3 linked regions of the Homo sapiens genome follow. The protein of the gene in region 3 purifies or fractionates together with the protein of the main gene of each other region. This does not show direct contact. Each region holds a gene or a part of one and is shown on either strand. Other genes may lie near its edges. The genes, in order: PPP2R5C, FBXW8 and TBC1D3.

Region 1 (3,646 bases), on a different chromosome or scaffold from region 3:
GACAGCAAATGCTTACTTGGTGCCTATCATAAGCCAGGTACTTTACGCATATTAACTTTATCTTAATCCTCACAACCAAGTGAAGATTGTTGCAAGGCAAAGCACTTTACTTTCTCAGTTTTTCCAAAGAGAAACTGTGGCTAAGAAAGACCTGGTGAGAGCTAACTTCCCCGGGTTCAGACAGCTGCTCAGGAGGAAGGCAGGAATGTGAACCAAAGTCATCCTCACTCTGATCTGCCTGCCCTTCTCTGTTGAATTTCTGGGCGGCAACCCTCAGAAGACTTGACGCGAGTGGACTGGCTGGACGCTCGCTCGGGGGTCTGGCTCAGAGCTCCAGGGCTAACACCTGTCTGGCTGCTGCCCTGCAGAATTCTGGGAAGGAGGCAGTGCCACCTGCAGCCTCGAGCGGACAAGGAGAGAGGGTGCATGGGAGAGGGCTGGTCCGCCGGCAGCAGGGTGACTGTGCAGCACAGCCAGAGGGGTGCCCAATAGACACTGCGAGTTAGGAGACCGCACCGGGCCAGAGTGCCGCTCACCAGCTTTGGGACCGCAGACTGGGCTGCGAATGCCCTCCAAGTCTCACCTTCCTCACCCATAAACTAAGGGAGGAGGGCTGGATAGCATAACCTGCTCTTCTTTAAGTTCTGAGTTATAATTACAATATACAATGGAAAGAGATGAAAGAAGGTGGGGAAAGAAAAACTCAGTCGTATTTCTTTAAATAGCAGGAATATTAGATGATACCATATTAATAAATAATATGGCCTGGGCGCAGTGGCTCACGTCGTCCCAGCACTTTGGGAGGCTGAGGCAGGTGGAATACTTGAGTCCAGGAGTTCGAGACCAGCCTGGGCAACATGGCAAAACCCCATCTCTACAAAAAATACAAAAATTAGCCAGGCGTAGCGGTGGGTGCCTGTAGTCCCAGCTACTCAGGACCCTGAGGCAGGAGGTTTGCTTGAGCCCAGGAGGTCGAGGCTGAAGTGAGCCATGATCGTGACACTACACTCCAGCCGGGGGGACATAGCAAGACCCTGTCTAAAAATAAACAAATAAAATACAAATTTTAAAAAAGAAAAATAAATAAATAATGTGGCACCCATATCAACAGTTTCCTTTTAAAGTCTCAGAAGACTATTGCTCAGTAAACGGATTTATTCATCCTCTTTAAGTCAAAAGATGAAGGAGCGGAGTAGGAGGAAATGTTTTTGGCTGCTGGGACTATGGGGCTGTGTTCAGATCACCTGGCTTCCCTCTTCTTCTCCAGGTAGTGACCACTGTGGGGTGGTTCTTGGGTCTCACACAGGGGCTCATCCAGGGTGCATGTCAGCAGAGCTCAATAGACACCCCGAGAATGCAGTGGCCACTGTGCCCCCGCCGGGGCTGAGCCCCACTGGGCTCTGCAGAGACCTTCAGCTTCTCTGCAGGACGCTCAGGAAGAGGCCTAGAAACTGCTGCTACTGGGAGGTGGCTGCAAACCAATGTGCCTCTATACTGGCAGGAATGAAGGTATAAGGTGGTAAATTCAACGGCCACAGAAACAACCCACGCTGCTACTTAATTTATGAGTCCACAAAGCAACTGACCTTCTTGTTTTTTAATTGATATTTAAAATTCTGATATTTATTCTTACTGAAGTAGCAGTAAAACGTGCCATATTTTAAAATGACTGAAAAAGATGGCAGCCAGTTCTTTCTTACTTGTTCCAATGGGTCTTTGAGTTGCGGTACAAGGAAGGAAACATGATGGGCAGAATCTTCGCTGCGTTGTCACTGATTAAACTCATGATGTATTCATTATTCCAGTAATAGAGAGCTCGCTCTGCCACCTGAAAGACACAAGTGGATGGCTTGCTGGAGGTTGTGCCTGAGACATCAGGTGGCTGTCCTTGCTGTTAAACCTGTGAGTCGGGTAATGAACTACCTTGGACCAGAAAATTATGATTATTTCTACAAATTCAAAATATTCTAGACTGTAACCTGTAACCCTGAAGAGCCTTCAACAAAGAGGCAGACAACTTCTTGTACATCAACTCATCAAGAACATTGTCACCTATTTCTCTACTTATTCCGTAAACATTTATGCTAGATGCTGGCTAGATGCTGAGGAGACAACTCAAAGGAGGCCATTCCACCTATCCACCCGCCTCCCCCATCTGTCAGGTCAAGAGGGCGTGCTGTGTTCTGCTGAGCATTCAGCACTGAACAAAGCAAGGCAGAAATCCTTGACTCCACGGAGCTTACATTCTAGTGGGGAGGAGACAGGTGATGGATGATTATTAATTTACTAGAAACGATAAGTCACATACAAAGGGCAGCAGGGCAGGAGAACAGGCAGCGGCGGTGCGTGTGCGGTGGGGTGGCTTCAATGGGGAGGAGGTGACATCTGAGCAAGGACCAGAGGGAGGAGAGGTCCTGAGTTGTCAGCACGGGGCTGGCTGAGGACCACTGCAGAGGGCAGTGGGGGCATGAACAGTAGGAGGGCAGGGGAACAGGGCCTGAGTGCACTGGCGCTTACTCACGGGAAGCCACTAGAGGGTGGTTCCCCCATTTTTCTTTTCTTTTTTTTTTTTGAGATGGATTTTTGCTCTTGTTGCCCAGGCTGGAGTGCAATGGCGTGATCTTGGCTGACTGCAACCTCTGCCTCCCGGGTTCAAGCGATTCTCCTGCCTCAGCCTCCTGAGGGGCTGGGATTACAGGCGCACGCCACCACACCCGGCTTTTTTGTATTTTTAGTGGAGACAGGGTTTTGCCATGTTGGTCAGGTTGGTCTCGAACTCCTGAGATCAGGTGATCCACCTGCCTTGGTCTTCCAAAGTGCTGGGATTACAGGCGTGAGCTACCACGCCTAGCCCATCCATTTTTGTTTTTTAAAAAGAGATGGAGTTTCACTCTGTTGCCCAGGCTGGAGTGCAGTGGTGCTATCTCGACTCACTACAACCTCTGCCTCCTGGGTTCAAGCGATTCTCCTACCTGAGCCTCCTGAGTGGCTGGGACTATAGGCATGCGCCATCGCACCTGGCTAATTTTTGTATTTTTAGTAGAGACGGGGTTTCACCATGTTGGCCAGGCTGCTCTCGAGCTTCTGACCTCAGGTGATCCACCCGCCTTGGCCTCCCAAAGTGCTGGGACTACAGGCGTGAGCCACTGCACTCAGCCCCCCATTTTTATTACTAAAACTTTCAAAAACAGACAAAGCTGCAAGACTAACATAATGAGTGCCCACCTCCCTCCACCCAGATTCAACACTGTTCATACCCTACCCTATTTGCTTTTTCTCTCCGTAGTAAACCAGCACACAAGTGCACGTTCCACAGAACTATCTGGGAGTTCGAGGCAGTCACCAGGACACTTGGCCTGTCCCCATCACAGCATGTATGCCTCTGGGAAGAGGAGCTTCACCTGTATAACTACTGTCAACACCCTTCATCTGCACACAACTCACAGCAGCACTTGGAGGCTCTGAGCAGCATGGGGCTGACGCTTCTCCTGCCAGAAGCCTACAGCTTAGAGATCCTGAGGTTGTGGTGCGGTGTGTATGGGTGGGATGCTGAGAGAATGGCAGGTGAGCCTGTGCCAGGCTCAGGAATCAGGGCTGATTCCTCAGAGGCAGTGAGCTGGGATGAACTTTGCAGAAAAGGAGTGAG
Region 2 (3,646 bases), on a different chromosome or scaffold from region 3:
CTTCAACTTTACAGAAAGGCTAACAGGCTCAGAGCTGTTAAGCAGCTCCCCTAAGTCCGTCAGCTAACAAGTGCTGGAGCTGGATTTGAACTCAAATAGTCACAAACTGTTATCTCCACACATTTATTTCTTGGTGAATTTTGAAAAATTGAATCAATTGGAATTGGAGCAAGGCATTAACCAGCCTAATGCAGAGAGTAATCATTTTCTTGGGTAAATCTTCGAAGGGAAGGAAATAGCTTGGGAATGATAAAAAGAAATTATTTTTGAGGAAAGAAGAATCAATGAAATGCTAAGTACAGAAAAGGTTATCTGACTGGAAAAGCATAAGCTCCTGTAGACCACTGGTCCTAAACTCCAGTGGACATCCCCAGAGTTACTGGTGCCTGACAGTCTGCATTTCTAATAAGTCGCCACGTGGTACTGATGCTACCGGTCTGGAAACCACCCTGGAGAAAGGGTGTGTGGCCAGTGTGTGAAAGAGGAATTAATCTGGGTAGCAGCATTCCAGGTGCTGGGAGAAGAGTGGAAAATCGGCATTTTTGGCAAGTGTGGGATATTGAAGCACAGGTTTTAGAGCTGTGCAAAATAAAGCACTGCTGCTAACAGAGGCTTTAGGAGGATGGCGCTGAGGAAGGATGTGAAATTCAGGCTGAGCATCCCTAATCCAAAATTCCAAAATGCTTTGAAACTGTTTAAGCACTGACATGATGCTACATGTAGGAAATTTCACATCTAACTTCATGTGATGGGTTTGTAGCCAAAACACAGCCAAAACTTTGCTTCATGCACAGAATTATTTAAAATATTGTATAGACCAGGTACGTTGGCTCACACGTGTAATTCCAACACTTTGGGAGGCAGAGGCAGGAAGATTGCTTGACCCCAGTAGTTCAAAAAAGCAGCCTGGGCAACATAGTGAGACTGTGTCTCAGCTAAATTAAAAATTAGCTGGGTATGGTGGCACACGCCTGTAGTCCTGTCTATTTGGGAGGCTGAAGCAGGAAGATCACTTAGGCCCATCAGTTCAAAAATGCAGTGAGCTATGATAGCACCACTGCACTCCAGCCTGGGCGAAGAGTGAGGCACTGTTTCTAAAAAATAAAAAAGTAAAATAAAATATTGTATAAAATTACCTTCAGGCCATGTGCATCAGGTATATATGAAACGTAAGTGATTTCGTGTTTAGACTTGGGTCTCATTTCCAAGGTATCTCCGTTAAAAAATTTTCCTTTGTGTTGCATGTTTTTAAAATAATTGAACATATTAAGTAAATTTAAAATTGTTACCTGCATTGTTTCTTGCTGCATAGGGTTTCTTAATATTTGGGATTTAAGGACCGGAAAGTACCCTGTTCATCGTTTTGAGCACGATGCAAGAATACAGGCACTAGCCCTCAGCCAGGACGATGCAACCGTGGCCACAGCTTCTGCTTTTGATGTCGTGATGTTATCCCCCAATGAGGAGGGGTACTGGCAGATAGCTGCGGAATTTGAAGTTCCGAAACTGGTGAGCTTTTTAGTCTGGTCATCTTATTTTCTATTCTTAGAATCTCTGGGTCTAATGTAAGCACGTACTAATGGTGTTGGTAACTCCCATTCACTCAGAGCTTCCTGCGGGCCTTACCTCCATAAGTCTAACTACAGCCTTACAAAATAGGTAGTAGCATTTTCCCCATTTACCAAGAAGCCACTTCAGGCTGCTTAGAGCAGTGAACTGACTTGCCCCAGTTCTCAGAGGTAAGAAGTTACGATTCAAACCTCAGGGCTGACTTCAGGGCCAGAGCTGCTCATCACTGTGGTTCCTTGGCCTTCTTCAGACTAACACGGTGGAATCTCACCCTTGGGAATCAAAGATCAGTTTGACCTAATATATAAGTGAGAATGAGTTCAGTGGTGTTATCCCAGTCCATCTGGGAAGGAAGGTTTCCATTCCTACACTTTCTTCATCCCAAGACTGTCTCACCTGAAATTTAAAGTAACTCTTGCGTGAAGATAGATTTAAGTTGGTGTTAATTGGGTAGCCATGTTCCAGGATGTCATGTGTGCAGCTCAGCCAGCCTTAAGAATTCTTTATGTCGAGCTTATTTCTGAGTTCATTGGTACAGGAACCTCTAGATTTGTAGAGTGGGAGATGATTTGGTGTTAAGAAGGAAGTGCTCAAATCTGTCTATGCTGAGTTAGGATTTAATTTAAACAAACTTGATTTTGGCACTGGTAGGAGAGTGAGCAGAAAAGCCAACACTGAGTGATGAATTGAGGGCCTGACCTGGAACCAATCCTGTTCCTCCCTCTTTCTGTCTGTTGGGAATCTTCTTAGACTAGAATAACTTAGAAAGCCATGGCATCACTGCTTCACCTCCAGGAGCGTCTGCACTTTGAGTATAGTGCTCCCCTAAAATGGCCTGATGCTGTCAGCTCATCTGGGTTTTATTAGAAAAATGTGAAAGTACATTTCTGTTCTCAAAACTTCCATAGTACTTACTATTTAGTCTGTGATTAAAGAATACTGTGTCACAAGGTCAGGAGATCGAGACCATCCTGGCTAACACGGTGAAACCACGTCTCTACTAAAAATACAAAAAATTAGCCGGGCGTGGTGGTGGGCGCCTGTAGTCCCAGCTACTCAGGAGGCTGAGGCAGGAGAATGGCGTGAACCCAGGAGGCGGAGCTTGCAGTGAGCCGAGATCGCCACTGCAGTCCAGCCTGGGCAACAGAGCGAGACTCCGTCTCAAAAAAAAAAAAAGACAAAAAAACAACAAAAAAACGAATACTGTAGACCAGCAATCACTGTATGGACCCAGATACTTACTTAAGATGCCAGTTTCTCTGTAAAGTGCAAATCCTGCCTTGGCAATAAGGTGGCATCCTGGCACAGACTGGAAGCTTTTTGAACTAGTTTACAGCCCCCAGCAAATGGCACCACCACTGTCAATCTGAGCCTCTTGGTCTGTCAGAAAGCCAACACGGAGATAAAGTTAAAGGGCTAGACGGAGGATATCAGTTGTAGGAAAATGAGACATGATTTGGGGGAGTGAGAGGAACCGAGCAGCCATTGTTCAAGGCGGGTTTTATGCACGTTTTAGGAATTATTTTTCACTTTGAGTGAAAGGTTCCCACAAAATGCTCTGAGTATCCTTGGAAAAGGCACCCCTGGCCCGAAGAGCCAAGCCAGTTTTGTCTTGTCCATATACGCCCCTGAATGGCAGTGGCAGTGTTCCCAGGTCTGCGATATTAGCCTAGTGCGGCTGTCCTTTGTGATGGACCCGCAGCTTGCGGAGCTGGGCCCGAGTATTAGCAGAGTCCCCCGGATGTTGACGCTCCCTCCAGCTCTTCTGGACCGTGTTCTGGAGGCCGGCTTTGAACTCTTTGGCATATGGTCAGGGCAGCGCTGTCCTTTCACACTGTGGATTTTCATAATTAGTGTGGCTCACCTTCTATGTGTCCTCTCGTGATTTACTCGCAGAGGCGAAAGCCTGTTGCGAACGGCACCGCGGAGAAATGGGCCGCCTGTGGATGGACAGAATCAAATTATTCTTGAAAAGTGCGTCTCAGACTCGTGCACATTAGAGAAAGTGCCGGCGGTGACGCAGTCAGGACTGGGGAGCGGGGTGGGTAGAAACATGCGTGTTTGTAGAGCCTTCCTT
Region 3 (4,402 bases):
GCCCAATGGGGCTGCCCGTCCTGGACTCGAGGTGGTGCTTTCTGCTGGAGCTGAGAAAGGTTAGCCCTGAGATGGGATGGGGGCCGCCCAGGGTGGGCGACCGGGCCCTGACAGGAGTCCCTCAGGGAGTGACCACATCCCCCCGCCAGGGTCAAGGGAGCCTGCCCTGAGACCTGCCCGGTGTACTCTGGCTGCACCAGGGGCCCACCCCACTTGACAGCCCCAAGGCCCTTGCAGGTTCTGACCTCCCAGCATCCACCTGCCTCTCCCTGCACCCGAGCCACACACCCTGCGTTTCAGAAGTGGCACGGCTCGTCAGCTCCCTCCCGCCCTACCTCCCCAGGGATCCTCTGTCTCTCCATCCTGTGATCCCTGAGGGATGGGCTCCTGGCTGGGCTCCTCTTACCCGGCCCCAGATCCCTTCCCAGCACCAGACCCAGGTCTTTAGCCGCGAGCCCTGCTGCCTCCCTGGCCTCACCGTGAGATGCCCAGAACGGGGCCCTGCCCATCTTCTCCCCCGTTCTCCTAGGGCTACAGCCCCCATTGTCACCATGCCTTTTCCCCTCACGGGACAGTGAGGGCTGTAGCTCTAGGGGAATGGGGGAGAACAGGGGCAGGTGGGCCCTCAGAGACCTGCTGCACAACAGCCCTGAGGCTGGGCCAGGAGTCCCCTCACCCTGTGGCCATAACCCTTGCATCTCACCGGGTTTGTCTCCAAGTAGACAGGGCCAGACCCTCAGGCTGCCCCGCTCCTCTTGTGCTCACTTGCCGACAGAACTGCTGAGCGCCCAGGGGCCTGACCTAGCCCAGTCTCCATTCCCACCGGCTCCCTAGATGGGCCCCACACCTCTGGCCTAACAACCTCGGGCTGGACCTGCAGGGGAGTCAGGGAGGAGTTCTGTCCCTGGAAAGGAGGTTGACCCGACCTGGTGAGACATGTCCTGCGTCAGAAAGGCCTTTCTAAAAGCAAACCCATCCCTGAGCTGAGACAGGTGCTTTAGGGGTGAGGGGAGTGCAGAGGACTCACTGTACAATCCCCAAATGATCGACGTTGTTGTTGTAGCTTCGAAAAGGCTTAGGCCCCTTGTCCTCTGGCAGCCCAGCTCGGTGTCCCTGTAGCCCAGAGGGAGCCTTGGTGAGGGGTCCAAGGTAAAGGGTGCAAGGGCCTGGGGGCATTGGCCACCCGTCCCTGCCCTGTGCTCCTAGGGAGCCCAGGACCCTTTGACCAGGGCACACTGGAAGAGGCCTCCCTCCAAGAAGCAGACCGACTTGTACCTTTTCGTATTTCATAATGATGTCCTCTCGCTCTTGTGCCCACCAACTGCCCGCGACCTCTACCACGTCCATCCTGTGAGACAGAATTGTCTAAAGGTCACACCGTACGCGGCGGCTTCGGAGAACACCTGAACCGCTCTCGCCGGGCTCCCAGATGCTGGCTGGCTGCGTAACCCCCATTCCACCGCCGCCCCCAGGGAAAAAGGGGCCAGACCCAGTGGCCCACAGCTGCTCCAGTCTCTGGAGTCTCAAGTCCCAAGCAGGGGTGGGCATCTTCCCAAGGACTTGAGTACAGTGGGACCTAGACAGAGAATCCTGTTGTCCCCCAATGCCATGAAATGGGGACACACTGGCCCCAGCAGGTTGAATGGTTTCCACCTGCCAAGGGTGAAGGGCCCATGATGGGCTATTCCAGGGATGTGGAGGCAGACTGGGGTCAGCGACCAGAGGTCTCTGTGCAATCGGCCTCCTGGGATGCTCAGGGCCTCAGCGATGCCCAGTTTCCTACAGGGAACAAGATCTCTCCCGACTGCTCGGTTCTACTCCGCTCATCACTTTGGCTACCGTGGCTCTTCAGTCTGAACAGTGAAGCCACTTTAGGAATAACGCCTGTTGAGCAGGAGGGTGTTGGGTTTGGGGGATGAGAAAGATCTATTGTACGCATGGAAACCACGTCTCTCGCGGAGGGACTGTGGAGTCCACCATTCTGAGCCGTCCCAACAGGAGGAGGCTTCATTTTCCTGGGTCACTGAGGAAGAACAGTGGGTCCTTGGTCCTGGAGAACAGCTGGATGGACCGTCCCTCCTGGGAATACTCGAGGCAAAAGGAGGGCGAGGCCTCAAGAGGACCACGCAGAGCAAGAAATACCTGGGGAGAACCCTAGTGCCCGGACCCCTTTGAACACAAGGGAAGATAGTCTCCCCTCAGCCAGCCCTCCAGGGCTCCTTCATTTTCCACAGCTGCCCAAGGGCAGCAGGCTCCCCCGGACAAGGGACCATGTGTGTTCAGTGGGGCCCACAGCGACCATCAGGACCCAGCTTAGGGCACAGAGGTGTTCTGAGGACCGTCAGTGGCTCTGTACCAGTGGCTCTGCCAGGACCAGGCTCTGCCCCATCGGGATGGGAAACCTGGGCAGATTTGGGATCTAGGGCAGGGAGGTCACAGGGTTCAGGCCTGAATTCCAGCACAGCACACGGCAGGGCTGAGAGCAAAACTCAGGGTCATGTCCGGATTCCCAGGCCGGTTACTGCCTCTCTGACCCCAGACGTCTCATCTGTCGAATGGGGACATTTGGGAACAGCACCCACTCTACGAAGCCACCATGGAGACGAAAGAGCCAATCGTCTACACGGGCAGTGTAGAACGGGCGCCTGGTGAGTGCTCAGGGATGACCCTCCTCGGTAGCTGCCCCACAGAGGCCAACACCGCCCGCACCGTAGCCACTGCCCCCAAGTCCGCCTGGAGGGAAGAGAGCAGGTCACGCTCACCTGATTCTGATGAATCAGCTGGCCTGGGTCATGCCTCTCAGGGAGAAAACCTTTGAGTCCACAGAGCTGCTCACAGATACCACTGCCTGTGTGTAACTGCTGTAGACCACTGAGGCAGACCAGAGAGCAGATAGGTGCTAAGCACCAGTGACATTCTGAGGTCATGGCACGAATCACAGTGGGGCCTTGCCCGGGTCAGCAGCGCCCAGAGTCAGGGTCCTCCGCTGCCTGAGGCGTCAACATGCCTGCCTGCAATGTGTTTGTGCACGTGCGTGCACATGTGTATGTGGGTAAACACATCTGTGCACGTGTGTGCTGCTTCTCTGGCCAGGCCCGGCTGCCCCACTCATGTGTGCACCCAGTTCCTCATCACTGTCACCCCCGAGGCCCAGGGCCAGCATCAGAGCATCCATGGCTGCTCCCTAACCTCAGCCCTCCCCGCCCAGGGTGGTCCTGGGATACACATAGCGGTGGAGGGAAGTGACTGCTGCTGTTGGATCTCAGAATACAAAAGCTAGTACTATTACCTAATGGTCTTTTTAGTGTCTCTAATGGTATCGCTTTTTCATTTCTGATATTTTAACTGGGTATTTCTCTCCATGACCCTTGGATATTCTAGCTAGAGGATCCTGTGGGGAAAGTGCCGGGCACACAGTAGGGGCTCACTCTTCTAGACATGTTATCTAAAACCTGGTTCATCTGTCCTTCCACACAGGGCCTAGGGGATGCCAAATTCCAGGGGCCAGAAAGAGCTTGGGATAAAAAGAAACTTCAAGGGGACGGCTTTGACCTGGGCTGAGTCTGCCTGTGCCATCCAACTGGAGTCTCAAGTCCTGAGGCAGGACGTCCAGATGCCCCAGTGCAGGGTCCTCCTGATCAACACCTGCTCCCCTGTACTCATTAGCAACCTCACCCACCCTACTCTCAAAGCACACTTGGCTCTCGTATCCAGGAGCTCTGCATCTGTAGATTCAGCAACAGCAGATGGAAAATATTCAGAAAATAAATTGGACGGTTATGTTTCTATTGAACATGTGCAGAGTTTGTTCTTGTCATTATTCCCTAAAGAATCCAGTATCACGACCATTTATGTAGCATCTGCATTGTATTACACATCATGAATAATCCAGGGATGGTCTAATGTCTACGGGAGGATGTGCATAGCTGATATGTAAATACTAGGCCATGTTATGTCAGAGACTTGAGGATCCATGGATTTTGGCATCCCCGGGGACCCTAGAACTAATCCATGGATACCAAGGGATGACTGTATAAACTCACTCAGGAAGGCTTCTCATTGGAGGAAGGTCCCAGTTCAGGACACACAGGGACATCTCCCTGGACTACTGTCCATTCATCCATCCATTCATCCATTGTCTCCCCCCACCCCCGCATCTCGGACTGTCCCAGTGACAGCCCTAGCAAGAAGAGACAAGAAACAAGTTCACGTTGTCCAGTTTTGAGGTAATGGAAGAAGTTGCACCAGTATGAGAATAGTGGGTCAGTTTTCTACAGGATGCAGAAAGCATATCGGGCAGCCTCGGGGTGCGGAAAGGAGCCTGGCCTCTCTAGCAGCCACACAGGCCTGCAGTAGGATGGGGCTGTGGCTGGCCATGTGGATCACTTGGGCCTCATGAGGG

The links.
Region 1: the proteins of TBC1D3 (region 3) and PPP2R5C purify together in Homo sapiens (affinity purification with western blotting; one study listed by BioGRID). This does not show direct contact.
Region 2: the proteins of TBC1D3 (region 3) and FBXW8 purify together in Homo sapiens (affinity purification with western blotting; one study listed by BioGRID). This does not show direct contact.

The regions. Positions count from the first base shown.
Region 1 is NC_000014.9:101,904,584-101,908,229, reverse strand, and holds part of PPP2R5C (serine/threonine-protein phosphatase 2A 56 kDa regulatory subunit gamma isoform), read right to left. Parts: intron 1,829-3,646; coding exon 1,701-1,828; intron 1-1,700.
Region 2 is NC_000012.12:116,983,894-116,987,539, forward strand, and holds part of FBXW8 (F-box/WD repeat-containing protein 8), read left to right. Parts: intron 1-1,289; exon of another isoform or gene 1,290-1,312; coding exon 1,313-1,509; intron 1,510-1,760; exon of another isoform or gene 1,761-3,444; intron 3,445-3,646. UniProt on the Homo sapiens protein: Substrate-recognition component of the Cul7-RING(FBXW8) ubiquitin ligase complex, which mediates the ubiquitination and subsequent proteasomal degradation of target proteins.
Region 3 is NC_000017.11:38,189,683-38,194,084, forward strand, and holds the start of TBC1D3 (TBC1 domain family member 3), read right to left. Parts: upstream 2,874-4,402; 5' UTR 2,763-2,873; intron 1,349-2,762; 5' UTR 1,348-1,348; coding exon 1,276-1,347; intron 1,114-1,275; coding exon 1,028-1,113; intron 1-1,027. UniProt on the Homo sapiens protein: Acts as a GTPase activating protein for RAB5. Does not act on RAB4 or RAB11.